Homo sapiens: one gene and its partners. The protein of the gene in region 2 interacts with the protein of the main gene of each other region in a pairwise test. Each region holds a gene or a part of one and is shown on either strand. Other genes may lie near its edges. The genes, in order: TASOR2, TRIM74, PSMF1 and PHYH.

Evidence for each region.
Region 1: the proteins of TRIM74 (region 2) and TASOR2 interact in binary tests that used the Homo sapiens proteins (3 or more experiments, as listed by UniProt).
Region 3: the proteins of TRIM74 (region 2) and PSMF1 interact in binary tests that used the Homo sapiens proteins (3 or more experiments, as listed by UniProt).
Region 4: the proteins of TRIM74 (region 2) and PHYH interact in binary tests that used the Homo sapiens proteins (3 or more experiments, as listed by UniProt).

Annotation. Positions count from the first base shown.
Region 1 is NC_000010.11:5,687,831-5,694,856, reverse strand, and holds part of TASOR2 (protein TASOR 2), read right to left. Parts: intron 2,060-7,026; exon of another isoform or gene 1,944-2,059; coding exon of another isoform or gene 1,939-1,943; intron 1-1,938.
Region 2 is NC_000007.14:72,959,441-72,966,466, forward strand, and holds the end of TRIM74 (tripartite motif-containing protein 74), read right to left. Parts: intron 6,736-7,026; 5' UTR 6,718-6,735; coding exon 6,319-6,717; intron 2,006-6,318; coding exon 1,910-2,005; intron 812-1,909; coding exon 581-811; intron 469-580; coding exon 442-468; 3' UTR 45-441; downstream 1-44.
Region 3 is NC_000020.11:1,121,583-1,128,608, reverse strand, and holds part of PSMF1 (proteasome inhibitor PI31 subunit), read right to left. Parts: intron 3,112-7,026; coding exon 2,959-3,111; intron 1,184-2,958; coding exon 1,101-1,183; intron 1-1,100. UniProt on the Homo sapiens protein: Plays an important role in control of proteasome function. Inhibits the hydrolysis of protein and peptide substrates by the 20S proteasome. Also inhibits the activation of the proteasome by the proteasome regulatory proteins PA700 and PA28.
Region 4 is NC_000010.11:13,283,065-13,290,090, forward strand, and holds part of PHYH (phytanoyl-CoA dioxygenase, peroxisomal isoform a precursor), read right to left. Parts: intron 5,478-7,026; coding exon 5,296-5,477; intron 776-5,295; coding exon 626-775; intron 1-625. UniProt on the Homo sapiens protein: Catalyzes the 2-hydroxylation of not only racemic phytanoyl-CoA and the isomers of 3-methylhexadecanoyl-CoA, but also a variety of other mono-branched 3-methylacyl-CoA esters (with a chain length of at least seven carbon atoms) and straight-chain acyl-CoA esters (with a chain length longer than four carbon atoms).

The DNA of each region.
Region 1 (7,026 bases), on a different chromosome or scaffold from region 2:
GGTCAAAATAAAAAACCACAAAGGGGCAGCTGGGGTCTGGGATGGGGGTAGGAGAGCCACATGTCAGACTGTCAAAAGGAAGTTACTATATAACGTTCACCAGATGCTTTGTAACATGCAAATTTTTGTTGCTGCACAGTATTTCTTCATTTATGCATGCTATTTTTTACCATACTTAATCCAAAAACAAATTAAGATGCCCCCAAAGAAAACTATTTAGTAACAGTGAAAAATGTCCTACCATAAATTATTCAGGAGAAAGTTCCAAAAGAAGTATATGTGTAATATACCATATCTTAAAGAATATAAACCACAATTTAAACAATGGTCATCTTCTGCACACTTATCAATATCTGGTATTTTTTCTTGTTTATCTGATTGTCCTCCAACCACTAGATTAGTTTCATGAATACAGGGCTTTGTCCTTTTCATTGTTGTATGCCAGTGCTCAGAACAGTGCCTGTTATACAGTAGGGTTTCAATAAATATTTACTTAACAAATTAATCAATTAGTTTTCCAGATCACTTTATTTCTAATTAAAGCCCCTCAGTACCCTCTCACTGCCCTCAGAACACAAAACACACCCTCCTGGCCATGGACAAGTAAAATTTGGTCCCTGCCAATTTCCTATACCTCATCTTGCTCTACTTTTCCCTGACTTACTACTGAGTGGCAGCTACATGGATTTTTCTTTTTATAGCTTTTTCCTCTTTTAAGGCCTTTGTGCATGCTGTTATTTCTGACCAGAATTCTTTTTTTTTTCTCCCCATTCCTCCCATGGTTGAGCTCTTTCTGTTCCTTTAGTGACATCTATTTAAGTCATCCACTCAGATAAACCTCGGATTACCCTGCTGCAAGTGTTTTCTTTAAAGCATTAGAACATGGAATTATTATAAATTTACTTTTTGGTGGGTTGGGAGAGGTCTATTTTCCCCAGCAGAATGTAAGGTTTATAGAGGCAGGCATTGTCTGTTCACCAAAGTCCCCAGGGTCCAACAGAGCTCCTAGCACCACAGTAGATAATCAAATATTCTATGAAGTTATCTTTGGATGGGACAAGTACAGGTAGTTTTTGCTTTACTTTTTACAGCTTTATATATTATCTGAAATTTTAAATAAACATAATCTGGGTGAAATAAAGCTATTTCCACTTTGGAAAAAAGATCTCCTGTAGTCCTAAGTAGCAGCCAGTTATAGTTGTGGTTTTGTGGGGGTTCCCCCCTCCTCCAGGGATGAGGTTGCCCAGGTTGGTCTTGAACTCCTGAAGTTACAGGTTTTTTTTAAATGAAGAAAATGTAGAGAAAACAAATAGCATTTCCCGTAAGTCAAAACAGAGACCCAGAAAACAAAGTGACCCTATTAAAAGCCAAAAAATACAATTTGAGAAATACACAATTTTCACAGAAACTTAAACATTCATTAAAAAATTTCTTGCCACATACGAGTTTAAACCAAGATAATCACGGCACGCACAAAGGGAGTAAAAACTAAGGTAATAACCTGCAAATACTTGAAGCGCAAAGTCAATGTGCAATCCCTGTTCTACATTTCAAAAGATGACCTTAGCTATTGTAGGTTTACATAGGCACACACACAACTAGCACCGTCTCTCTGGCGGTTCTGCAAGGGCTCCACCACTACCACACACAATCCACTCACAATCAGGAGTGAAGTTAAGCCTTCGGGTACCATACAAAAGTGTCTTTCATCACCAGGGCTCTGCTGCGGGGCCTCACTGACCCTGCCAAAGCTTCTCTCCCCACACCCTCACCAGAAGGTAAAACGTTACTAGACAGAATAGGCCCATTTTCTCGGGTCTCCTTCGCACTCAGCGCTGTATTAACAGTCACCTCCGTGGGTGAGCCCGCCCCAGGCACAGCGGGGGTCAGAGCTTCCCACAACAGCATGTGGGAGACCTAGGCCCCTCCCCGACTCACCTCATGGTGTGTTGGGGAGGGTGGCTGTGTCTCTGCTCCGCCGGCAGCCCCTCCGGCCCCCTCCCGCCAGCCAAGGCCAGTGCGCCAGAGCGGGGAACTCCGCGCAGGGCGTGCTGAGCGTGTAGGGCGCGGGGCCGGCGGCGCCTTTTGAAAGTCAACAAGGGCGACGCCGGCTCCGCGAGCGGAGCCCAGGGGCATGGCCCTGACTCGGCGCCCACGGACCCCACAGAACGAGGGGATCCCTGCAAACCCCACTGAGCCCGTACAGCCAACAGGGCTGGGAGATCCCCGCACACTCCGTAGACCCAACGGAGCTTGTAGCGGGTAGGGACTCCACACACCAGGGAACCCTACAGAACCCGCAGGACCCCAGGACCCTGCAGACCTGGGCGGGCTCAGTCGTCAGAACGGAGCACAGGACAGCAAGCCAACTGCCCCCGAGTTCTTGGACGTCACACAGTAACCCCACTAGGAGGATGGTTTTAGTATTATTTTACAAAGCTCACTCCAAGCTCCAATTTCCTTAAGTGTCCTACCCGCAAGCCCCTAGTAAGGATATCTATCAATCTCAGGTCTAATCTAAAATACACGTTCTTTTCACTACAGTGATCTCAAGTTATTATAACTCTTCGTCCCACATCATTTATGCAGCCTCACCGGCTACAGTTTGATGCAGCTTTTTAAATTTACTATGTAGATAATAAAAAATGTATTTATACATGTCACAAAATTAAAAAGTCATAATGAATATGGCTTTTTTTTTTTTTTTGAGACAGAGTGCAGTGGCACAATCTGGGCTCACTGCAACCTCTGCCTCCTGGTTTCAAGCGATTCCCCTGCCTCAGCCTTCTGAGTAGCTGGAATTACAGGTATGGGCCGCCACGCCTAGCTAATTTTTGTATTTTTAGTAAAGGCGTTTCACCGTGTTAACCTGGCTGGTCTCAAACTCCTGACCTCAACTGATCAGCCCGCCTCTGTCTCTCTAAATGCTCAGATTACAGGCGTGAGCCAACATGCCAGGCCTGAATATGGTTTTTTAATACTTCACATAGCTTCAGGAAAATTGATACCAATGCCTGGGGTAGGGATGAGGTCCCTTCCCAATAAGCCATGCAGCCCTAACAAAATTTACGAAAAATTTAATCAAACGGAGGTGCAGGGGGAAGATGAAGTGTTTGGCCTGATCTAAGGACATCTTTACTCATTATGTTTTAACTAAGCAATCTAAGATACCCACATGCATTGCCCAGAAGAAAGCCTAATTAGTAGATCTTATTCATCATTACCATTAGTGTGTTGTATAGCATATAGGATAATTTGAACTTATAAAGCAAGTTAAATTCATAAACAATTATGTAGATTAACAAAGAGCTATTCAAAATAAAAAATTCACTAAGGTATTTAGTATATCCAGTAGGAGACAAATTACCTTTTTTAAAAACTTTTTTTTTGGAATTACACCCCTTGAGTAAAGTGTATTACACCTATGTACTATGACTTTTTCATTTAGCTGTGGCTTGCTTATTTTTGGATTTAATATTCAATTTTTGAAGATTGTTTTAACATTCTCAAAATCCAGTCTACCACAAAAAGTATTTTTGGTAATCAGGCTGATGCTTATAAACACCACAATTTTTTTCCTCCTACATTATGTAAAAACAACAACAAATTCTTTAGAGACCATACTTTTTATATTCAAGATCATATAACTTTCTTTTTTTTTTTTTTTGAGACGGAGTCTCACTCTGTCGTCAGGCTGGAGTGCAGTGGCGTGATCTCGGCTCGCTGCAATCTCTGCCTCCCAGGTTCAAGCGATTCCCCCACCTCAGCCTCCCAAGAAGCTGGGACTACAGGCATGCACCATCATGCCCGGCTAATTTTTTGTATTTTAGTAGTGACAGGGTTTCACCATGTTGGCCAGGATGGTCTCGATCTCCTGACCTTGTGATCCACCCACCTCGGCCTCCCAAAGTGCTGGGATTACAGGCATGAGCCACCGCGCCCAGCCTCAAGGTCATATAATTTTCATTAGAATTATTTCAAAGCTTATATGGTGACTTTTTAAAACATCTCTATACAGTAATGACCATTGTTCTGGCTCCTCATCAACTGGGTTTATGAGTTTGTGCTTTGGCATTAAACCATCTTTTGCCTGTATAAAATGGTTGTATCGTATTCATTAATATACTTATTGCAAGGATACACACTGTTAAGTAGTTTTGTCCCTCTTACAAAAATATCCTGAGAATAAGTTCCTCTCAGAAACAATTATATTTCAAGACCCACTTTTGGGTACTCTTGATTATTACATATGGCAAAAGAGAACGTGACATCTGATTTATGCCAGAATAAAGATAACTATGTATGGCCACCACCTCTACACGTAGCCCACGCAAAATGTCCTGGGCACAGATAAATAGGGGATATGCACAAGGGTAAAGTAGGTGCCCCAACTGGACAAACCTCAGGCATTGGGATCTTGAATATTCCTTCTCCTAATGAGGGAGCAGGTGTACATGAAAGGTTCTAAACAGGGTCTATTTCACCATGCCAAGGAGGGTAGTGAATCTTTATACAAAATATTAGCAAGGGATTTAGTTCTCCGATTAAATGTAATTAAAATCTTACTAAGAGAAAACAAAGTACACTCCAGATACATTTCTTATGATAAAAACAGTAATTTTAAAAAGCAAATTAAAAAAGCCAACTAAGCCAAGCAATAAAAGCAAAAGCTGGTTATTTGTAGAGTAATAATAAAGTAGGTAATCTTTTAGCAAATATAAATAAGTAAAAAGGAAAAAATTAAATATTGAAAGCAAAGACGATACAACCACAAATACAAGGAAGATATTTCTAAAATTATAAATCACCATGTATAATTTATATCAATAAATCTGAAAACTATAAAAATATAATTTACCAACATTGGTCTAAATGGAAGAAACATTTAAATAAACCAATAATGATGAAGAAAATGAAAAGAGTAGTCAAAAACTCTACCCCCTCTTCCAAAAGACTAGTTCCAGAGATTTCCTGTTTTACTTTTAACTTATCAAAAATTATCAAAAATCCACAAGTTTGGCAATGTATGTCTGTTGGGGAAGCTGTGGGAAACAAAGTGAAAGAAGAGTAAAAGACCAGAAGAGAATATTTACTATGTAGATAATTTAAAAAATTATTTATACATTAAGATAAATAACACGAATGGAAATCACATTTAATAAATTATGAATAAACACATTTAAAAACATCTCCAATTTACAGATTTAAGAAGACAATCCCAAGCAAGATACATACATGCTTGTTTTTTTGTTTTTTTGAGATGGAGTCTTGCTCTGTCGCCCAGGCTGGAGTGCAGTGGCGTGATCTCTGCTCACTGCAACCTCTGCCTCCCGAGTTCAAGCAATTCTTCTGCCTCAGCCTCCCGAGTAGCTGGGACTACAGGCGCGCACCCCCATGCCGGGATAATTTTTGTATTTTTAGTAGAGACAGAGTTTCACCATATTGGTCAGGCTGGTCTTGAACTCCTGACCTCTTGATCCGCCCACCTCGGCCACCCAAAGTGCTGGGATTACAGGCGTGAGCCACCGCACCCGGCCAATACATACAAGTTAACAGCAAAGCAGCAAAAAGCTAAAGATCAAAACAAACAACAAAAGAACCCACAAAAAACAGTCAGAACAAAATGAATTGATAGACTGATAGGTGACTTTTCAATAGCAATAATGAAAGCCAAAAGACAGAGGAATAAGAGCTTCAGCATGTTAAAAGAAAACAATTGCCAACTTTTGTATTCAGCAAAAACATCATTCAAGAATGGCTGCAAAATAAAGACATTTTCAGGTGAACAAAAACTGAGTGTTCATCATCAATAGATCTTCAATAAAAGCCATTCCAAAAACTGTACTTTTTAAAGGAGACAGGGTCTTGCTCTGTCACCCAGGAAGGTGTGCAGTGGCATGATGATGGCTCACTGCAATATCAACCTTCTGGGCTCAAGCAATCCTCCCACCTCAGCCTCCCAAGTAGCTGGGAACACAGGTGTGTGCTACCACGCTCCACTAATTTTTTTTTTTTTGTAAAGATGGGGTCTCACTATGTTGCCCAGGCTGGTCTCAAACCTGGCTGAAGCAATCCTCCCAGCTCAACTTCCCAAAGTGCTAGCATCACACGCATGAGCCCACGCACCCAACCAATTTTCTGAAATTATATAATGAAATGTGTCATGTGAAAGAGCTGCACAATTCAGTGAACCAATGTTTTCCAAATGACACATGTGTAGGTAAAAGAGCCCTTGAAAGTGCATGGTAGGCCAATGTTAATGTCAGAGCATGAGAAGTTCATTCATATGATTTGCAATTCTACACTGCAGCTAACGTTTAACAAATTGTTAGGGGCTGGATGTTATAGTCCCAGTGCTTTGAGAGGCGAGGCAGGGGGACTGCTAGAGGCCAGCAGTTCGAGACTAGCTTGGGCAACATAGCAATACTGTCTCTACAAAAAAAAAAAAAAAAAAAAAAAAATTAAAAATTAGCTGGGCCTGGTGGTGTGTGCCTGTAGCCCTAGTTACTCAGGAGGCTGAGGCAGGATTGTTTGAACCCAGGAGTTGGAGGCTGTAGTGAGCTATGATCACATCACTGCACTCTAGCCTGGGCGACAGAGCAAGACACTGTCCTAAAAAACAAAACAGAAACAAAAACACAAAACTGTTAGGTTTTGATGAGTATCAAAAAAGAACATAATCATCTGAAAAGATTATTAAAATATTCATCTCTTTTCTAACTACTCAGCTGAATGACGCTGGATTTTCTTCATGCACTTCAACCAAAATAATACATGGCAACACAATGAATACAAAAGCAGATGAGACTCTAGTCATTAAAGGAGACCTTCAGCGTATTTGCAAAAATGTACAAAAATCCCATTCTTGTCACTAATTTTGGGGAGATAAAATATGTTAAGATGTAATGGGTTATTATATTTAAAGGTACCAATAAATAAACATACATTTCAAATTTATCAGTTTTAATATCTAATACGGTAATTATCAATTGATATAATCCAATAAACAAAAGATCTTTGGGATCT
Region 2 (7,026 bases):
CTCAGCCTTATGAGTAGCAGGGACTATAGGCGCATGCCACCATGCCCAACTAATTTTTTTATTTTTGTATTTTTTGTAGAGACGGGGGTGTTACTACATTGGCCAGGCTGGTCTCGAACTCCCGGCCTCCAGCAATACTCCTGCCTTGGCCTCCCAAAGTACTGGGATTGCAGGCATGAGCTACCCTCCTCTAGTATTTCTGTAGCTTGAGTGAACTTCTGCTGTTCTAGGTACCCACAGTTCACCATCTGCCTCCCCACCTGTCTGCGAGACCCTTGAAGGCAGGGACGTGACTTTCCTCTATCTTCCCCAGGCTCAGTTATAGAGCCAGCTATAGGCAGCTGCTTGGGAGGCGCTGGTTAAGCTGAATGGAGGAACCAGTGGAGCTGAGATGCCCGTGCCCGCAGCCACCAGACCCTGGCTGAGCTCTCTCCAAGGTTATTACCTGGAGGCCATGGAGTGGAACTTCTGGAAGGCAAGAGAGAGGGAGGTTAAGGCTAGAAGGTGGGAAGCCAGGGCACTGTTGGGAAGGGGAAGGCCCTGGCGGGTATGGGGATGGGACGCCTCCCTGTCCACTCACCCAGATGAACTCATGGTGGTCCTCATTTCCGAACTGTTCCAGCACACACTCGGCTTGGGCCAGCCGCTCCCGGGTTCCCTGGGCCTGCTCCAGCTGCATGTCCAGGGAGGCCACCAGGCCACGGGTGTGACCCCCTATCCCCTCCAGGCAGCGGGCCTTCTCCTCGTCCACCGGGTGGCGCAGCTCCTGGAACTCGCGGCGGATCACCCAGCTGAAGACATCCGACTCATTCTGGGACAGGGAGGGCTGCTCACTGCAGAGTCACAGCCGAGCTGCCAGGCTCTGTCTGGCTGGCCTCGGTGTCCCCAGGGCCTTCCTGACCGGGTTGGTCCTGGGACCTGAGTCTCAGGGGAGGCTGCATGGCCTGGCGCCGGGCAGGGAGTTCACCCCATGCATGGGGAGCCCTGGCGGTGGCCGTGGGGAGGGTGGCCCCAGCTCCCATTTCAAATGGAGAGGCTCTGCTTTGGCCTGTTTTAATTTTTAATTTTTTTTTTAACAGACAGGGTCTCACTCTGTTGCCCAGGCTGGAGCGCAGTGGCACGATCATAGCTCACTGTAGCCTTGACCTCCCAGCCTCAAGCAATCCTCCCGCCTCAGCCTCCCGAGTTGCTGGGATTACAGATGCACGCCACCACACCCCACTTTGCCTATTTCAGCTATTAAATGTGCATATCCCAGAGTTCCACAACTGAAGGAAAGCAGGAAGGCCCTGGGCGAGCGGGCTTTGCTGTGAGGGAGCCAGAACTCCCTGCAGAACCCTGAGCTCCGCCTCCACCAGGCAGGGCTGATACCGCCTGCCGCGCAAGGGTGAGGAGGGTAAATGAGGGAGGCCAAGTGCTTCTGGATCTTGCTCGGCTCCTGTTTCTGTTTCACAGCCACCTCCAGGGCCGGGGCACTATGCGTCCCAGCCCCATGTGCCTCTCAGTTCAGGAGATCAGCCAGGGCCCAGGGCTGCCAGCCTCTCCACGCCTGCGCACCCAGGTACTGGGAGGGCACCATGACAGGCTGGCAAGGTCAAGCAGACACAGGTGGCACAGGGGCGGAGGAGTCACGCCCATGCTTTCAGCTGTTTACCCCCGAGACTCAAGTCCTGGGTTATCTCAGTCTCAAGGACACAGAGGGCAAAAGCCAACTTGGAGCCAGTCCTAACGACAACTGGGTTGAATTCCCCTGAGAGGATTTGCGCTTTCCCCACCCCGCCCCGGAATGCTTTGAGTTCTGGCTTTATATGGAAGGCATGGTTTTCTGTAAAGGACCAATGAGAACTGAGCTCTACAGGAAAGTGAAGGTGGCCGGTCCCAGGCAGGGGCAGAGGGAAGGGGCACTCACGACGATTCGGGTCCGGTTTTTCACCAGTTTGGCGATGAGCTCATCCACCTTCTTCTGCTCCTGCTTCAGCTCAGAGAAGAGGGCTGCGAGCTCCTCCTGGAGGCAACAGGCCATGGCCCCATGAGCAGCTGATCCCTCCCCTTCTCAGCTCCTTGGATCACCTTCTTGGGAGTATCCCAATGGCCACAAGCACTCCCAGGGAAACCAGGGCGGGAACCAGAGCCACCCAGGTACCCTTGAGTCCAAAACAGGTTAAATTGTTCAAGAATAGTCTGGGCGCAGTAGCTCACGCCTGTAATTCCAGCACTTTGGGAGACTGAGGTGGGACTTCACTTGAGGTCAGGAGTTTGAGACTAGCCTGGCCAACATGGTGAAACCCCATTTCTATTGAAAATACAAAAATTAGCCAGGTGTGGTGGCACACACCTGTAGTCCCAGCTACTTGGGAGGCTGAGGCACGAGAATCGCTTGAACCTGGGAGATTGATGTTGCAGTGAGCTGAGATCATGCCATTGCACTCCAGCCTGGGTGTCACAGTGAGACTCTGTCTCAAAAAATAAAAATAAAAAATAAGATAATTCAAGAATATTCTAAGGGCCGGGCGCGGTGGCTCACGCCTGTAATCCCAGCACTTTGGGAGGCCGAGGCTGGCTGATCACGAGGTCAGGAGATCGAGACCATCCTGGCTAACACAGTGAAACCCTGTCTCTACTAAAAATACAAAAAAAATTAGCCGGGCATGGTGGCGGGCACCTGTAGTCCCAGCTACTCCGGAGGCTGAGTCAGGAGAATGGCATGAACTTGGGAGGAGGAGGTTGCAGTGAGCCGAGATTGCGCCACAGCACTCCAGCCTGGGCAACAGAGCAAGACTCCATCTCAAGAAAAAAAAAAAAGAATATTCTAGGCTGGGCACAGTGGCTCATGCCTGTAATCCCAGCACTTTAGGAGGCCAAGATGGGAGGATCACTTGAGGCTAGGAATTTGAGACCAGACTGGGCAACACAGTGAAATCCCATCTCTAATGTTTTTTTTTTCTTCAAAGAATATTCTGGGCCGGGCGCGGTGGCTCACGCCTGTAATCCCAACACTCTGGGAGGCTGAGGCGGGCGGATCACGAGGTCAGGAGATCGAAACCATCCTGGCTAACACAGTGAAACCCTGTCTCTACTAAAAATACAAAAAATTAGCCGGGCGTGGTAGCGGGCGCCTGTAGTCCCAGCTACTCGGGAGGCTGAGGCAGGAGAATGGCGTGAACCTGGGAGGCGGAGCTTGCAGTGAGCCGAGATCGCCCACTGCACTCCAGCCTGGGCGACAGAGCGAGACTCCGTCTCAAAAAAAAAAAAAAAAAAAGAGAATATTCTGCATTGACAGCAGGAACTTCCCAGGCATAAGAGGGTCTCGATGTCACCCCTGTGCATGACATGGAGACAGTCACTAAATGTTACAGCTACCAGAAGTCACCATGTGATGCTGGCACTTCCTGGATTGAATGCTGCCTGTAGGGGACCCATCAGGTGAACTCTGTGGTCACCAGCAGATCCAGAATTAGTGGGTATTTAATCAGGAGCCATCACAAAAAGGCCGGCGCCAGGTGAGGCTAATTCTAGGGCCAGTGGTGCTCACACGGGCCTGGGTTTAACCTGGTGAATCCCCACACCTATAAACACCTGAATCCATTCCTGGTGGGCTTGGACACAGCACGGATTTGCGACCTCCCCAAGCTGACATAAATGCACTTCTCCTGGACTGCCCGGGCCCCAAATCTGACCTAGCCTTGGGGGTGCCAACCAGGACTCCTGGACCACCATCTACTCCATGACTTGACCAGAGCCCCCGTCGGTTTATACCCATGCAATGTACAGAATTTTTGGCTTGGATCGTGCCCAAGCACCAGAGAGCTGCAAGGGGCTTTCAGGAAGGGAGTTGGGTAAAGAATCAAGCACTTGCTGGCATAAACGGACAGAGTCCTTGCTCTGGAGAATGAGGCATCAGAACATCTCACAGAGGCCTAAGAACAGCATTCCAATGTCACCCTCCCCAGGCAGACAGACGGGACTCATTCCTTCCCCGTGAGAAGAACTAAGTTATGCAAATCAATGCACCCATCAATCGAGCATCTCAAGATCTCAATAAACAGGAGGCAACGGGAACACCTTAAAGAGGGCAATAAAGGAGTGCAATTTAGTTGTATTCTGTGTTGCAACAGAGAAGAGCCTCGGGATCATCAAAACCCAAATCTGGCCGGGAACAGTGGCTCATGCCTGGAATCCCAGCACTTTGGGAGGCCGAGACGGGAGGATCACTTGAGGCCAGGAGTTTGAGTCCAGCCTGGACAAAATAGTGAGACCCTGTCTCTACCAAAAAAAAAAAAATTAAGCCCAAATCTAAAACAGGGACCCAAGCTGAGCTGCTGGATCCTAACTACAAAGGACAGACAATCTCCCAGCCTGTTCCCTCCCTCCTTCCCATCAACTAATAAAACATAAACTCGGCTTCCTCACCTGCAGTTGGCTTCCACCTTCCATACTCCCCTAAACCTGCTCTTGCCAAGATAATCAGTTCTTACTGCTACATTTAACACTTTTCAGTCCTCAGAGACATTTCACACACGTGATCTCCTCCTTCAGTCTGTCTCTCTGATTTCCGGGAGGCCACACTCAGCCGGTGTTCCTGCTCTGAGGATTCTTTCTATTCCTTTTTCAGGGCTCTCTCTCTCTCAATCCAGATTTTAAGCCTGGTACCCCTTGGGGTCATCATCAGTGTCTTCCCTTATCACTATGTAGACTCTCCTGGGTTGGTCTTCTCCACCAAAGGGGACTTCAGTGACCACCAAGAGGAAGGACCCTCCACACCTCTTGCCCTGAGCCCCACCGCTGTCCTGGTCTGCACACCCCTCAACCCGACTGCACATCCCCAGGCACCTCCCGCTCCACCTGCCCACGCCGGATCCTCCCCTGCGATCACTTCCTCTGTGCAAGGGGGAATTACAGAGCTGGAGTCAACCTCCCCATCCCTCACCCTCCTTGCCACACACAGTTGTCAGGGTTTTTTTCTGTTTGAAATTTGTCTTTGGTCTGCCCCAGGCCTTTGTCCCAGTTCCCACCAACTTAGGTCCTGGCACCTTCATCTCTCACTGTCCTTTTGCCTCACCCTCAAAGCTCCCCTCTGCCAGAGAGATCTGAGCATGTCATCACTGGCTTAAAACACTCCAGCCCCCGCCTTTCTCCCTCATCCTGTGAATAAACTCCAAATCCATTCCCGGGTCACACTGGCCTCTCCATGCCCCAGCCGCAGCTTACCTCGCTGGCCCTATCTCGCCCCCACCCATGCTCCCTCCAGCTTTATGCTGGGATTACAGGAGTGGCCACTGCGCCTGGCCAACCAGGCTAATTTTGAAACTTTTGTAGAGGCAGGGTCTCACTATGTTGCCCAGGCTGGTCTCAAACTCCTGGACTCAAGTGATCCACCCACCTCGGCCTCCCAAAGTGCTGTTATTATAGGCATAAGCCACCCAGTCACGTGTTTTATAACAGGTGTTTTATATATATAACACCCAGTCAGGTATTATTATTACTCATCTTAAAGAATGATCTGCTAGGTTTGGTGATGGCCTATAAAGGCAGGAATTCACTGATTCAGCATTTTGGACATTTACAATGTGCCAGGCATGGCTCCAGGCACTGAAATACACCAGGGGACAAAATGAAGTCCCCACTCTCATGCACCAGAGAGTGCAAACAGGGGAGTGTCCAGACACAAACAAGGGGCGTAGGGCAGTGGTGCATGCCTATAATTCCAGCACTTTGGGAGGCCCAGGCAGGAAGATCGTTGGAGGCCAAGGAATTCAACACCAGCCTGGGCAACATAACCAGACCCCATTTCTACAAAATATAAAAAATGAGCTGGGCATGGTGGTGTGCACCTGTAGTCCCAGCTGCTCGGGAGGCTGAGGTGGGTGGATTGCTTGAGCCTAGGAGTTGGAGGCTGCAGTGAGCCATGATCACACCACTGCACTCCAGCCTGGGCAACAGAGTGAGACGCTGTCTCCAAAAAGAAAGAAGAAAAAGAAAGGGGGGGCGGGCGAGGGAGGGGGAGAGAGAGAGAGAGGAAGGGAAGGGGGCGGGAGAGAGAGAAAGAAAAAAAGAAAAAGAAACAAACCAGAACTGCAAACAAAAAACAGGAAGGGGTGAGCACGTGACACCAGGGAGCTCCCATCCTGTGCGTGTAGCTTCAATCCCCAGCACCTGGGTTTAGCTGCCGCTCAAACACTAAGGAATGAATGCGCCAGGGCAGGGCTGCAGGGAAATCGAGGATAGCTGGATCCGTTTTGGTGCCAGTTGATAGCGCCAGAGAGCACAGGATCCAGTCCCCGCGGGCCCCGCCGCCCCGCCTGCACCCTCACTCCCCACCTTCATGCGGCTGCAGACGGTGGAGACGGGCGTGACCGGGTGGTGTTGGTGGGAGCCCAGCAGACCGCAGAGGCCACAGATGAGCTCCTGGTCCTTCTCGCAGAAAAGGCTGAGCGGGTTCCGGTGGTGCACGCAGACCTTGGGCTCCGGGTCCCCAGGGAGCCTCAGGGCTTCGATCACCCAGGCCAGGGAGACGTTGGGCAAGGAGCTGCTGCCGTCCACCACCTGCCAGCACATGGGGCAGCGCACCTTGGTGTCCAGGTGGTAGGACAGGGAAACCAGGCAGCCCTTGCAGTAGGAGTGGCCGCACTGTAGCATTAGGGACTCCTTGAAGACCTCCAGGCAGATGGGACACTGAAGCCAGTCCTCCAGCTCCAGCAGGCTCACCTGCCAAGCCATCCACACTCACTGCCCGGGCTGAAACACAGGCATCCGACCTCAGTCCTGTCCACTCCCCTCCCCCTGTCCAGCACTCACCCACCACCCTCAACCCTAAGGAGCACCAGAATTTTATAAGAAACACTTTGAGTCCTGGATCCCAGTCCTAACCCACATGACCTTGGGCCTCAGTTTCCACAGCTGTAAAACAAAAGACTGCAGTGAAAAAACTGGTCCCTTGAAGATACGTGTGTGTGTGTGTGTGTGTGTGTGTGTGTGTGTGTCTACATTTTTTACTCAAATTTGGAGACAAGCATGAAAGGGGCCATC
Region 3 (7,026 bases), on a different chromosome or scaffold from region 2:
ACAAGCACTAATCTAAGTACCTTTGGAACACACTACTCTGCCTACATCTTTTGTGGAACATAGTTAAAAGACAAAAAGAACTGGAAATAAGTCATTTGGAACTTTACTTAATAGGTTTGTTCTTGGTAGGCACTGATGTAGCAATTCAGAAAATATTTGTGTGTATTCTAGGATCAAATAAATAAGTAAATACATTGATGCTGCTGGGAATCAGGGTTCTCACCACAGGAGAAGGGAGATATAAGTATGGAATAAGAGAAAAAGAATCCTGTAGTGTTATATTAAAAACAGAGGTGGCAATTTAAACTTATAAGGAAAAATTTTCCTAGCTCTATCTGCTGAAAAGGTCTAGAATCATACTACTGTATGATACCAACTATGTGACACTCTAGAAAAGGCAAAACTATGGAGACAGTCAAAAGATCAGTGGTTGCCAGCAGTTAGGGAAAAGGGAGTGAAGAATAGGAGAAGCACAGATTTTTAGGGTAGTCAAACTATTCTGTGTGATACTATGATAGACACACATTCTCATCTGTTTGTCAAAACCCACAGACTGCACAACAGCAAGCTTGAGCCCTAATAATGATGTGTCAATGTAGACTCATTAGTTGTAACAAATGAATCATTATGTATGGGATATTGACACAGGGAAGCTGTAAACTGTGGGTGTATGGGAGCAGGAGGTAATATGGGAATGCTCTGCACTTTCTGCTCAATTTTGCTTGTACCTAAAACGACCCTAAAGAAAATAATTTTTTTTTAAATAAGTTGGAGATTGGGGTTGGGGACCCAATGAGGCACACATCCTCCCAGGAGTCTGCTCTGACTGAATGAGTTGCCCGGGCTCCACCTCTACTCTGCAGCCACCACTGCACTTGTGGACTCTTGACTGCACCATCTTGTTTCATGTGGCATTTCCTATGGAAGTCTCCTCTTCAAATACATAAAAAACAGAAAAGAAAATTAGGAAGTTGTGCCCAGAAATAAAAGGTTCTTCCATTCACCTTCCTTAATTTTCTGGACACATCCACCCTATTCCTCATATCTTGCCATTAGTTCTCTCTTCTTTTTCCCAGGGAAGAGACATCATTTAGAAGTACCTGTGGAAGTCACCCAGGTGTTCTGCATCGATATAATCATCCAAGTTCAGGGTCAAGTCTGCCACTTGCTGTGAGCCATATTCCTAGATGGGTGAAAATAGAAAGTGAGAGACTGGGATATTTCTGGCTAAGAGTGGGAGGGTGAAGGGAGAGTAACAAAGTCTTCAACCTAAAGAAATATTCACATATGTCCACAGAGACATATATAAGGACTGTTTATATGAAATACCTTCCTAAGGCTTGGAGACTTCTCTGATTTAGGAATATTGCCTTTCCAAGGCAGAGACTAAAACACCTACTTCCCAGGCTCTTTTGCAAAAGGGCTCAGGCATGGTAATTGAGGTGTTGAACTGATGCATCAACTTTGATCTGCAGGTGAGCAACACGGAGATGCAGACCCAGCAAGGGGCAGACATCTTGCTAATGAGGGTAGCACAGAGGCCAGGGGGTCACATCAGCAGCTTAAGAGAAGGGTGCACCAGGGCAGACAGAATCAGCCAGTATCTAATACTGGGCAGTGGTGGTGGCAGCAGTGGTTTCCGGGGCATGATTTGGGACACTGCTTCTGGAAACCTAGCCTTAAACCTGTTTCAATGAGCTATCCTGGTTCTTTTTGTTTTGTTTTGTTTTGAGACAGAGGCTTGCTCTATTGCCCAGGCTGGAGTTCAGTGGCACGATCTCAGCTCACAGCAAACTCTGCCTCTTGGGTTCAAGGGATGCTCCTGCCTCAGCCTCCCAAGTAGCTGGGATTACAGGCACCCACGACCACGCCCGGCTAAGGTTTAAAAATATTTTTAGTAGAGACAGGGTTTCACCATATTGACCAGGCTGGTCTCAAACTCCTGACCTCAAGTGATCCACCTGCCTTAGCCTCCCAAAGTGCTGGGATTACAGGTGCGAGCCACTGCGCCTGGGTGATCCTGGTTCTTTTAATAAACCCTTTTTGCTTAAACTAACCCAAGAGGTTTTTGTTGTTTGAAACCAAGAACCCTATCTGACACGAGATCTAAATGTTCATCAAAAGGGAAAGGAATAAAGAAATTATGGTGCTATGAGAAACTATATAATAGTTAAAACAAATAAGGTATATCTATATGTATTTCCATGTCAAGGTCTTGCCTCCAAAACACCGAGTGAAAAAAAAGCAAAGTGCAGTATAATACATACAGCAGGATACTTCTACATGGTCACACCCAAACCACTAAGAAAAAAGTTAACAAAAGGAAAGTCACTGTCCTTGTGGCACTTATAGTCCCATGGCAGAATAAAAGCAAAGCACAAATAAGTACACAATTACAAGCTGCAATGAGTGTCAGGCAGGAAAATAAAATGATGGCGTAAAGAGACATAATTTAGATTTTTTTGGGGAGTAGGACTGGGTAGTCAGAACTGAAATTTTTGAGGAAGTCAAAAATGAAAGAGAATTGTCCAGGATGAAGGAATGGTGAAGGGCTGTGTGAGTGGCAGATGGGGGAGGGGAAGAGCCTTCCAGCATAGGAAATGTAAAGTGCAAGGGCTCCAAGGCAGCAAAGAATTCAATTTATTTAAGGAACTGAAGTAGCCCATTGGGGTTACCTAAGTTTTTCCCTTCTATCTTGTCACTGAATAGATTTACCTTATTTAACCATTCCCCTGTTGACAGAAAGCCCCTCCTTCTTAATTCCAGGTGGTGGATACCTTTGTGCACGAAGGTTTTCTATACTTAGGGTTCTCACCTTAAGATAAAGTTCCAGAAGTGGGATCACTAGGTAAGGGCTACATGAACATTGAAGCTCTGGATTCGTACCGTTAAATGGGTTTCAAAACAGCCATTCCTATCCCCATCTCATCAGCAGACTCACGTGTCCCAGAGACTCACCAGCACATTGAGGATCATGCTGCTCTCCACGGTGATGGCTTTCACAAGGAGCTTTCTGGACCCATCCTTATACTCATACCGGAGGACATACAGGTCTTTATTGTTGTTCCACCCAGCTGGCAGCAGTTCTGACTTCTTATCATTGGGACCCGGCTGGGAAGACCACAGTTGAGAGGAGAAAGATCATGAACTCAAAACACAGAACTATAAAGAACCTCACGAGATAAGCTAATCTTACCCACCTCACTTCACAGATGAAGATGTGGAGGTCAAGAGAAATGACTTGCCCAAGATCCTACAGCGAGAGAGAGGTCTAGGGCCCAGGTCTCTGGGCTTCTGTTCTACTGCGCTCTCCCTCATATTGAGCTACCTTTCTGACACAGCACTGGAACCTGTCAAGAATCTGCAGTGTTGGTTTAATAATTATCTCTTCCCCATCCCACTGCTAAGAATAAAGCCAGTCATCTTGAGGAACACTGCGAAGTTCTAAGTAGTGTTTTTCAAAGTTTGGACGTTAGGCTAACTTCAATAGGATTACCAAGGTGTTGACTAAAAACACAGATCCGAATACACGCTAACTGACTGCAGTGATGTACAAAAATTATAATTTCATAATACACAAAATGTAGCACATGTACAAATAACAAAGAATTATAAAATGTCTCTACCACCAGCTTAAGAAATAGAACATCAGCAATACTGCTAAAGCCTTGGGTAGCATACTCCAATAAATGTCCCTCCTTCCCCTTCAAGGGTAATCACCACTCTTAAACAATTTCTTTACTTTTCCTTAGAGTTATATTACTATACATGCAACCATAAAAATATAGCTTCAAATGTTTTTGAATTTTAAATACACAGCATCACTTCCGTCATTTGCCTTTTTTATTTGATAGTTTTTGGAAATGTATCCATGTCAATGCATTTAACTACAGCTGATTCACATTCACAGCTACACAGCATTCTGTATGACTATGCTGCAATTTATACATCTACTTGTTGATGGTGATTTGGAGTATTTCCAGCTTATTTGTTTTGCTATTATAAACAATGCTGCTATGAACATTCTTGTACACATCTGGTACACGTGGATAAATTTCTATACAGTATGCATGGAGGAAAAGCTTTTAATTTATAAGATAAAGTCAAGTTGTTTTCTAAAGAGTTACTGATTTATACTCCCACTAGCAATGTATGAAAGCTCCTGTTGCTCCGTGTAGTTGGCAACATTGCTATTATTGCTTGCCAATCTAGTAGGGGTAAAATGCTTGCCATTTTCATGCTTGTCAGCCTGGTGGGTGTAAAATACATCTTTTATTGTGAGTTGTGATGTCTTCCTCTTTTCTTTTTTAAAAATCCTAAGACTTTCCATACTAAAGTTTGAGAAATAGTTCTCAAATTATTTCTACAGGAAAAATAATATAGTGATTTCTAGGTGGGGAAGATTTCTTAAACAAGATCCATAAAAGAAAATGCTGCCTTTGACACTGTTCATAATTGAAAGCTTCTGTTCTACAGAGACACTACTAAATTAATAAGGAGCCACAGGCTAGGAAGAGACATTTGCCATGGCTGCAAAGGAAAGAAATTAATAACCTCTACATAAAGGGAATGCCTGGAAAATGAACAATAACAATTGGGAACTCCAAAAAGTGGCAAAAGATATGAACAAGAAAAAGAGCGGCTAATAGTGTCTAAAGAGTTATTCAATTTTACTAGCAATCAGAGAAGCAGAACTGAAATAATGAGACACTAAGTTACATGATTCGGACTGTTATTACCCAGTTTTCTATTTTTTGCCAGATGTCTGTGTAGGTGTGGGGAGAATGGGAACCTCCAGTCCCTGCTGGTGGGCATTTAAACTTGCACAGCCCCTTCGGGGAGCAATCTGACAGTTTTTAGTGCAATTAGATGAGCCAATATCCTATGATCCAAAATCCCTACTCCCAGAAGAAACCCTGTGCACAGGGTACATAACAAAGGATCTTCATTATAGCCTTGGCTAAGGTAGCAAAAGTGGAGATAAAATGCAAAATATGCTTATAGTGGAATACTATATAGCAGTCAGAAGGAATAAACCAGATCTAATGATAGTATTATATATAAAAGAAAAAATATGATTTAAAGAAAAGTTCCCCAAAAAATGAGGTTTACACTCCAGTACCACTTATGTAAAAATTTTAAAAAGCACAAAAAAATGCTATAATCTTTTTTCATGGATGTATATTTATATTGCTCACCATGGGGCAGGTGGACTGGGAAGATCTGTAGTCATGAGAATACAGCGGGAGGGAGTGGGACCGGAGATGAAGAAAATGGAAAAGACAAAGGTCCAGCAAAGCAAAACTTCACACACCAAGGACAAGGGGAGACCACACATTGAGAATTGCTGGCCTCTCCTGTTTCGTCACCCCTGGTGCTCAGAAATCCTCTGGGGAAAGAGATCCCAAATAAAATTCAGGATGTCGCAACTGTCATGGTTTAAAACCTGGCTGGATGACAATGAAATTCATAGGCCTGAAGCATAGAAATGAGAGTGAGGAAAAACAAAAGTAAAACTAATCAAACCATTCTTCTGCGAAAAAGAAACTATCCCCTCACCCCAAACTGGGTAAATTTCCCGAATATGTTTAGTGTTTAGTGTCGTGGATTTGTTTACTTTGGAAGCCAGGAATTTGATGACATCCTCATCTTTGCTCTGGCAAACGCCTTTAAATTTATATTATATCCTCCATGTACAGCATTCAATCCACCAGAGTTCTCTCTTGGAATATAAACAATTTGGTCTGCTCACCACCCCATCACCTTTGGCTTCCAGAGTTACAGAAAATCCCTGAAGTCAGGTGAAACTGATATCTCTAACTGCAGTGCAATTGATGTTCCCCAGTAAACAGAGGACAGACCCTGGCGATATCAGGCCAAACATGGTCTGCAACTGCCCTGTAAACCCTGACATCAAATATCAAGAGTCCCAGAAAGCCACAGTTGGAAAGTAGCCTAAGTACACAGTCACGTGGTTTAACTTCCTCTGATGAAAAATCAAAGGCCTGAGGCTGAGCGCGGTGGCTCTTGCCTGTAATCCCAGCCCTTTGGGAGGCAGAGGCAGGCAGATCACTTGCATTCAGGAGTTCGAGACCAGCCTGGCAAACATGGTGAAACCCTGTCTCTACTAAAAATACAAAAAAAATTAGCCAGGCATGGTGGCGGGGACCTGTAATCCCAGCTACTGAGGATGCTGGGGCAGAATTGCCTGAACCCAGGAGGCAGAGGTTACAGTGAGCCAAGATAGCACCACTGCACTCTAGCCTGAGTGACAGAGTGAGACATCTCGGATTAAAAAAAAAAAAAAAAAAAAGAAAAGAAAAAGAAAAAGAAAAGAAAACTCTAAGGCCTGAGATGGTCAGAGAGCTGCCCAAGGTCTCAGCAAGTCAGGTGTAGGGCTGTGCTTGGAATTCAGAGCTCCTGATTGCCCAGGCTATGGCTAGAGAAGGTTTTTCCCAGCCAGGTCCACAAGACTGGCCCTAAGAGAATAAAGATAATTGTCTTCTTAGGCAAAATCCTGGCACTGGAAGCATTCTTTAATGGCCATGAATTTGCCCCAATGCCTCTGAACTAAAATTCACCCAAAGAAACTTAAACAGATCATTTTGGGCATTTTCTCTCTTTCATCATAATCCTTAGATTTCCCACAACAGAAAACAAAATTCTCTAACTTATGTCGATAACCACCTAAGTCATCCCTTACCTATCCCCTTGGCACCCAAACCACTTGACAAAGCTGTAAAGTTCTTGTGAGGAGTGGTTCTGACTTCAAGAAAGAAATCCAAATTCAAGTATTGGATTTTTGTTGAAGCCAGTGGCTGCACTGGTTTTCTAATCAAGTTTTATGTACACAATTCCCCTGTAACAGAGGAAGCAAAACCTAAGAGAAAGCAGACAATCTAGCTTTCCATTTAACTGTCAACTTGTATAGTCAAGCATACACTCTTGGGACCTTCCTCTCCTTCTTATCACCCCCAGAAGGGTGGAAACAGCAGATGGCTGGAGAGGCAACACAAATATCCTCTG
Region 4 (7,026 bases), on a different chromosome or scaffold from region 2:
CCCGCCTCAGCCTCCGGAAGTGCTGGAATTACAGGCATGAGCCACTGCACCTGGCTTTCATAATCAATTTTTTTTTTTTTTTTTGAGACGGAGTCTCGCTGTCGCCCAGGCTGGAGTGCAGTGGCGCGATCTCGGCTCACTGCAGACTCCACCCCCTGGGGTTCACGCCATTCTCCTGCCTCAGCCTCCCGAGTAGCTGGGACTACAGGCGCCCGCCACCTCGCCCAGCTAATTTTTTGTATTTTTAGTAGAGATGGGGTTTCACTGTGTTAGCCAGGATAGTCTCGATCTCCTGACCTCGTGATCCACCCGCCTTGGCCTCCCAAAGTGCTGGGATTATAGGCATGAGCCACCGCGCCCGGCCCATAATCAATATTGACAAGGTTAGGATCCTGAGGTCACCTGGCTTCTTACTGATAAGAGCACAGAAAGCCCAAGGTAAGCAAATATATTTCCTGGTAAATAAACTGGACTAAAGTCCAGGTTGGTTAAAAGCCACAAATCTTTAAAATGTTAATGCAATTTAATTAAAATTTTATTCAATTAATTTGAATTCAATGAATTGAATACAATTTTTGTTTCTAACCCACACTTCTGCAGCAGGTGCAGCAATGTGAATGCTTACCTTCCGGAATCCCTGGGTTTTATTCTGACCAGATCCGTGGATGAGCAAAGGATGGAAGAAAACAGTGTCGCCCTTCTCCATCACCAGGTGCACCCGGGCCTTGTTTTCCTCGTAGTCCTGGATCCCGTGGAACATTTTGTTAACTCCCCCCTAGAACAAGAGGCAAGTGAAGTCTACATTTGAGGGAGTACCATAATTAAAAACATTGTCAATGGTTCATCAGGGAAAGCAAACATCAGGGAAAGAAAGCATTTCTCTCTCCCAAGAGAAATAAATGTCTAAATTAAATGCTTACATTTTTTTCAGTATACAAAAGCCTCTCAGATATCTGGTTTTTAAGAGTCACATTTTGGCCGGGCATGGTGGTTCATGCCTGTAATCCCATCTCTTTGGGAGGCCAAGTTGGGAGAATTGCTTATGCTCAGGAGTTTGAGATCAGCCTGGGCAACATGGCAAAACCCCATCTCTACAAAAACTGCAAAAATTAGCTGGGCGTGGTGGTGCCAGCCTGTGGTCCCAGCTACTCAGGAGGCTGAGGTGGGAGGATCGATTGAGCCGGGAGGGGGAGGTTCCAGTGAGCCATGATCACACCACTGCCCTCCAGCCTGGACAACAGAGCAAGACTCTGTCTCGAAAAATAATGGTAATAAAAAAAAAGAAGTCACATGTTGATATTAAAATCACTGATTTTTTGGAGGAAATGAACAGTGTGGAATTTCCACCTGCCCTTCATGACTGCATTATACATGAAGATCTAGCTTAGCTTTGCCTTTTGTGGTTAATGCAGGCAACCACCTATCTCTTGGGCATTTCCAGCCTGAAACTGTGAGTGTTCCCAGTGTGTTCTCCTCCTCGCCCAGAACTTTAAATAAATCCTTCATCTCTTACTCAGGAGTGTCTCTGAGAAGCTATTTCCCCAAAATAGGGGGGAGAAAATGCTCAATTTTTCTGAGCTCAAAGGCACTTATGTTACATCCAGAATAATGAAAGAATAGTAAATTAAAACACTGTGTTTGTTTGTAACTATTTCCCAAATTAGTTGCTACTTTAGGTAATGCGGTTATGTCTTTATTAAAGAAATTGACATGAGAAGCACCTTAGGAGTCAGGGTAAGGGAAGCAGCCCATTCCTCTTCCTAAGAGCATCCCCAGTTCCTTCTGGGAATGACGACATCCCTCTTAGACAGTGCTGAGACTCTGACCCAGAGCCCTTCTCTCCTGGCCAGGGTGAATGTGTGACCCACACTAAGCTAATCATACCTCCCACTCTGCATCTGAGCAGGGTATCTGAGACTCCACACGCTCTGGAAGCCCTGCAAACTTTTCCCTTTGCCTTCTGTCAGCCAAAGCCCACTGCAGTTGCATGCACCAAACTTTAAACCTTGGCTTCACTGATGAGTTTCACATTAAATGGTTTTATATCAGGATCCAGACACTCACATATTTTCATTTGACACTAATTATTGGTGCAAGAAATCTGAGACGTTCTATTATTATTATTATTGTTATTACTGAGATGGAGTCTTGCTCTGTCGCCCAGGCTGGAGTGCAGTGGTGCGATCTCAGCTCACTGCAACCTCCATCTCCCAGGTTCAGGCAATTCTCCTACCTCAGCCTCCCGAATAGCTGGGAGTACAGGCACACACCACCATGCCTGGCTAATTTTTGTATTTTTAGTAGAAATAGGGCTTCACTATCTTGGCCATGCTGGTCTCAAACTCCTGACCTCAAGTGATCCACCCGCCACGGCCTCCCAAAGTGTTAAGATTATAGGCGTGAGCCACTGTGTCCAGACGAGTTAGGAGTTCCTAAAACCATGTTCCTCATTTCCTATCGAACTACAACTCATTCTCCCTGCTTTAACAATGGGGGCTCTTTCCATTCGCAGCATCATGGGATTCCAGGATCTTTTCTTTTCTTTTTTTTTTTTTTTTGAGATGGAGTCTTGCTTTGTTGCCCAGGCTGGAATGCAGTGGCGCGATCTCAGCTCACTGCAAACTCCACCTCCTGGGTTCAAGCTATTCTCCTGCCTCAGCCTCCTGAGTAGCTGGGACTACAGGCGCACGCCACCACACCAGGCTGATTTTGTATTTTTAGTAGAGACAGGGTTGCTCCATGTTGGTCAGGCTGGTCTCGAACTCCTGACCTCAAGTGATCCGCCCACCTCAGCCTCCCTAAGTGCTAGGATTACAGGCATGAGCCACTGCGCCCAGCCCAGGATCTTTTCTTTTTCTTTTGATACGGGAACTTGCTCTGTCACCCAGGCTGGAGTGCAGTGGCACCAACATAGCCCACTGCAGCCTCGAATTCCTGGGCTCAAGTAATCCTCCTGCCTCAGCCTCTGGAATAGCTGGGACTACATGCATGCGCCACCATGCCCAGCTAATTATTATTATTATTATTTTTAGAAATGAGACCTCACCGTGTTGCCCAGGCTGGTCCTGAACTCCTGGGCTCAAGCGATCCTCCCACTTTGGCTCCCACAGGGTCTTTTCACCTTAGACCTAACGCGTTAATAGTCATCTCTCTGGTTTCTTTGCTTCTAGATGCCTATACCTCTAACGCGTCCTGCACCAGAACGTGACATTACTGTCCTTGAAGAGCCGATTTGATCCCATCACTCATGAGCTCAAATGCATTTAACATTTCCAAGCATCAGCAGCTGAATGGATGAACAAACCATGGTTCACGGTGCAGCCATGCAATGGAATACTACTCAGCAAGGGAAGGGAAAGAACTACTGTTGGCCAGGCGCGGTGAGCCCAGCACTTTGGGAGGCCGAGGCAGGCAGATCACGAAGTCAGGAGATCGAGACCATCCTGGCCAACATAGTGAAAACTCGTCTCTACTAAAAATATAAAAATTAGCTGAGCATGGTGGCTTGTGCCTGTAGTCCCAGCTACTCGGGAGGCTGAGGCAGGAAAATTGCTGGAACAAGGGAGTCGGAGGTTGCAGTGAGCCAAGATCGTGCCACTGCACTCCAGCCTGGTGACAGAGTGAGACTCTGTCTCAAAAAAAAAAAAAAAAACAACAAAAAACTACTATCATACACAACAGCATCAATGAACCTCAAAATCACTACACTGAGTGAAGGAAGCCAGAACGGGACAAAAAAATCTATACTATGTGATTACATGTCTATGACATTTTAGAAAATGCAAACTAACCTGCAGTAACAGAAAGCAGCTCAGTGGTTGCCTAGAGCAGGGAGAAGGATGGAGTATCTTGATTGTGGTGATGATTTCACAGGTATGTGTGTGTGGAAAATGATCAAATTATACATGCAAAATATGTACAATTTACATGACAATTATACCTCAATGAAACTGTTTATTTGTTTAATTGTTTGTTTTTTAATTAAAAGCTCTTCAGCCAGGTGTGGTGGCTCACGCCTGTAATCCTAGCACTTTGGGAGGCAGAGGTGGGCGGATCACGAGTTAAAGAGATCAGGACCATCCTGGCCAACATAGTGAAATCCCGTCTCTACTAAAAATACAAAAATTAGCTGGGTGTGGTGGTGCGCGCCTATAATCCCAGCTACTCGGGAGTCTGAGGCAGGAGAATCACCTGAACCCAGGAGGCAGAGGTTGCAGTGAGCCGAGAACGTGCCATTACACTCTAGCCTGGTGACAGAGTGAGACTCCTCAAAAACAAAACAAAACAAAACACAACAAAAAAACAAAAAGGGTCTTCGATCTTCCTAAAAGTTTGAACTAAAAAGTTCCCATTCTTCCCCCAAATAAACTGCAGACTTGTTAGTAAAACAGTCTTTTCTAATCTGGTCCTAATGTACATTTTTGGGCTCACCTCCTCTGCTGCTCCCCAAAATACACCCCCAGCGCCCAGCCCATCTAGACTGCAAGCTCCCTGGGTCTTTCCTGTTCTTTGGTCAAGTTCAGGCTTGCCCTTGACCTTGTGCCTTCCTATATCGACTCTTCCCTATGGGACATTGTACACTGTCCTGCAAGGCTCAGGTCAGACACCAGCCTCCCCAGATCCTTTGCTGGTCTCTGCAGTTGCAAGGAGACAATCTCTCCTTCCTTACTCTGAGAGCCATCAGTTAGTGAGTAAGACTGACTTGGTGTCTACCACACACATCTGGGGTCGAAGGGTTTATGTCTTACCTCTGCAGCTAGGACTTACAATCTCGGATCCTATACAGTACCTACCCAAGCTCCCCACCTTGGCTGGCTTTCAAACACGTGTTAAGGGCAGGTACAGTGGCTCATGCCTTTAATCCCAGCACTTAGGGAGGCCGAGGTGAACAGATCACCTGAGGTCAGGAGTTCAAGACCAGCCTGGCCAACATGGCAAAACCCTGTCTTTACTAAAACCACAAAAATTAGCCGGGCGTGGTGGTGCACACCCGTAGTCCCAGCTACTAGGGCGACTGAGGCGGGAGGATGGCTTGAACCTGGGAGTTGGAGGTTGCAGTGAGTTGAGCAAGACCCTGTCTCAAAAACAAACAAACAAAAAAAGTGTTGAAAATAGGTGTGATGAATGTTTTCTCTGACATCCTTGAACTTTCTCTGATCCTCACTGCAAATCTTAGGACAATGTTTTGCTCAGAAAGGAAATGCCATCTCATTTGTAAACTCTTTAGAGGTACTGATGTGAAACAGAAACTGCGAAGGAGATTCGGATCAAGACTCAGCCGCCGGGCAGACCTACCTCCCACTTGGGGTAATCGTGGGGCTTCAGGGAGCCCTTGTGTGTGCCTGGGAGCACAACCAGACAGCCGTTGTTCCGGCTGATGTGCTCCATCGCCGTCCAGGCGCAAACGATGAGATCGCTGGGCCTGAAGGGGAAATAGTGCAGGTCCTGGTGCAGGGGGTGACGGGACGTCTTCTTGCCTGAAAAGAAAACCTGCTACTAAAGGATACTCGAGGCCGAGTGCAGTGGCTCACGCCTGTAACCCCAGCACTTTGGGATATAAAAATATATCCCAAAGTGGGAGGCTGAGGCAGATGGATGGCTTGAGCCTGGGAGTTCAAAACCATCCCGGGAAACACAGTGAGACTCCGTTTCTACAGAAAACAAAACAACAAAACAAAACAAAACAACAAAAACAACTAGCCGGGTGTGGTGGCATGCACCTGTAGTCACAGCTACTTGGGAGGCTGAGGTGGGAGGATCACCTGAGCCTGGAGGTCGAGGCTGCAGTGAGCTATGATTGCACTGCTGCATTACAGCCTGGGTGACAGAGAGCGAGTCCCTGTCCCCCACCCCCAACCAAAAAAAAAAAAAAAAAAAAAAAAAAGCTGGTCTCAGAATTCTTATCCTTTGCCTGAAAAAACAATGACCTGTCCCCAGAAGAACCAAACAAATGAAATAATGCTAGAGAAAATCAGCCCCGGAGAGATAAACACCAAATTGGAAATCAACACACTGGCTCCACATCTTCAAATCCCGCACTCCCTTCTTCCGGGTTGCTGGTAGCTAAGTACTTATGCACACTATTTTCCAGCAAGCGGTATAACATCCTCATCTCTGTTGTGCTTTATTCTTTGTTGTTATTGTTTTTTGAGACGGAGTCTTGTTCTGCTGCCCAGGCTGGAGTGCAGTGACGCGATCTCGGCTCACTGCAAGCTCCGCCTCCCAGGTTCACGCCATTCTCCTGCCTCAGCCTCCCGAGTAGCTGGGACTACAGGCGCCCGCCACCACGCCCGGCTAATTTTTTGTATTTTTAGTAGAGACGGGGTTTCACTGTGTTAGCCAGGATGGTCTTGATCTCCTGACCTCGTGATCCGCCCGCCTCGGCCTCCCAAAGTGCTGGGATTCCAGGCGTGAGCCACCACGCCCGGCCTTGTGCTTTATTCTTTTGTGACCCTGGATTGGGCACAGTACCTAGCATGCAGTAATGCATGTTCAAAAACCAGTTGCATTAATTACATTGAAGAGAGTGATATGGAGTCAAGTTTGAAATCCCCTTTGAAGTGGCTGATGTCAAAAAAAGTTCTAAGCCACGTGTAGTGGCTCACACCTGTAATCCCAGCACCTTGGGAGGCTGAGGCAGGCAGCTCTCTTGAGGTCAGGAATTTGAGACCAGCCTGGCCAACATGATGAAACCTCGTCTCTACAAAAATACAAAAATTAACTGGGCATGGTGGTGCACACCAGTACTCCCAGCTACTTGGAAGGCTGAGGGCTGAGGCAGGAGAATCGCTTGAACCCAGGAGGCAGCAGGTTGCAGTGAGTCAAGATCGCACCACTGCACTCCAGCCTAGGCGACAGAGTGAGACTCTGTCTCAAAAAAAAAAAAAAAAGAAAAGAAAAAGAAAAAAAAACACACAAAACAGGACGGGCACGGTGGCTCACGCCGGTAATCCCAGCACTTTGGGAGGCTGAGCCGGGTAGATTGCCTGAGGTCAGGAGTTCGAGACCAGCCTGACCAACATGGTG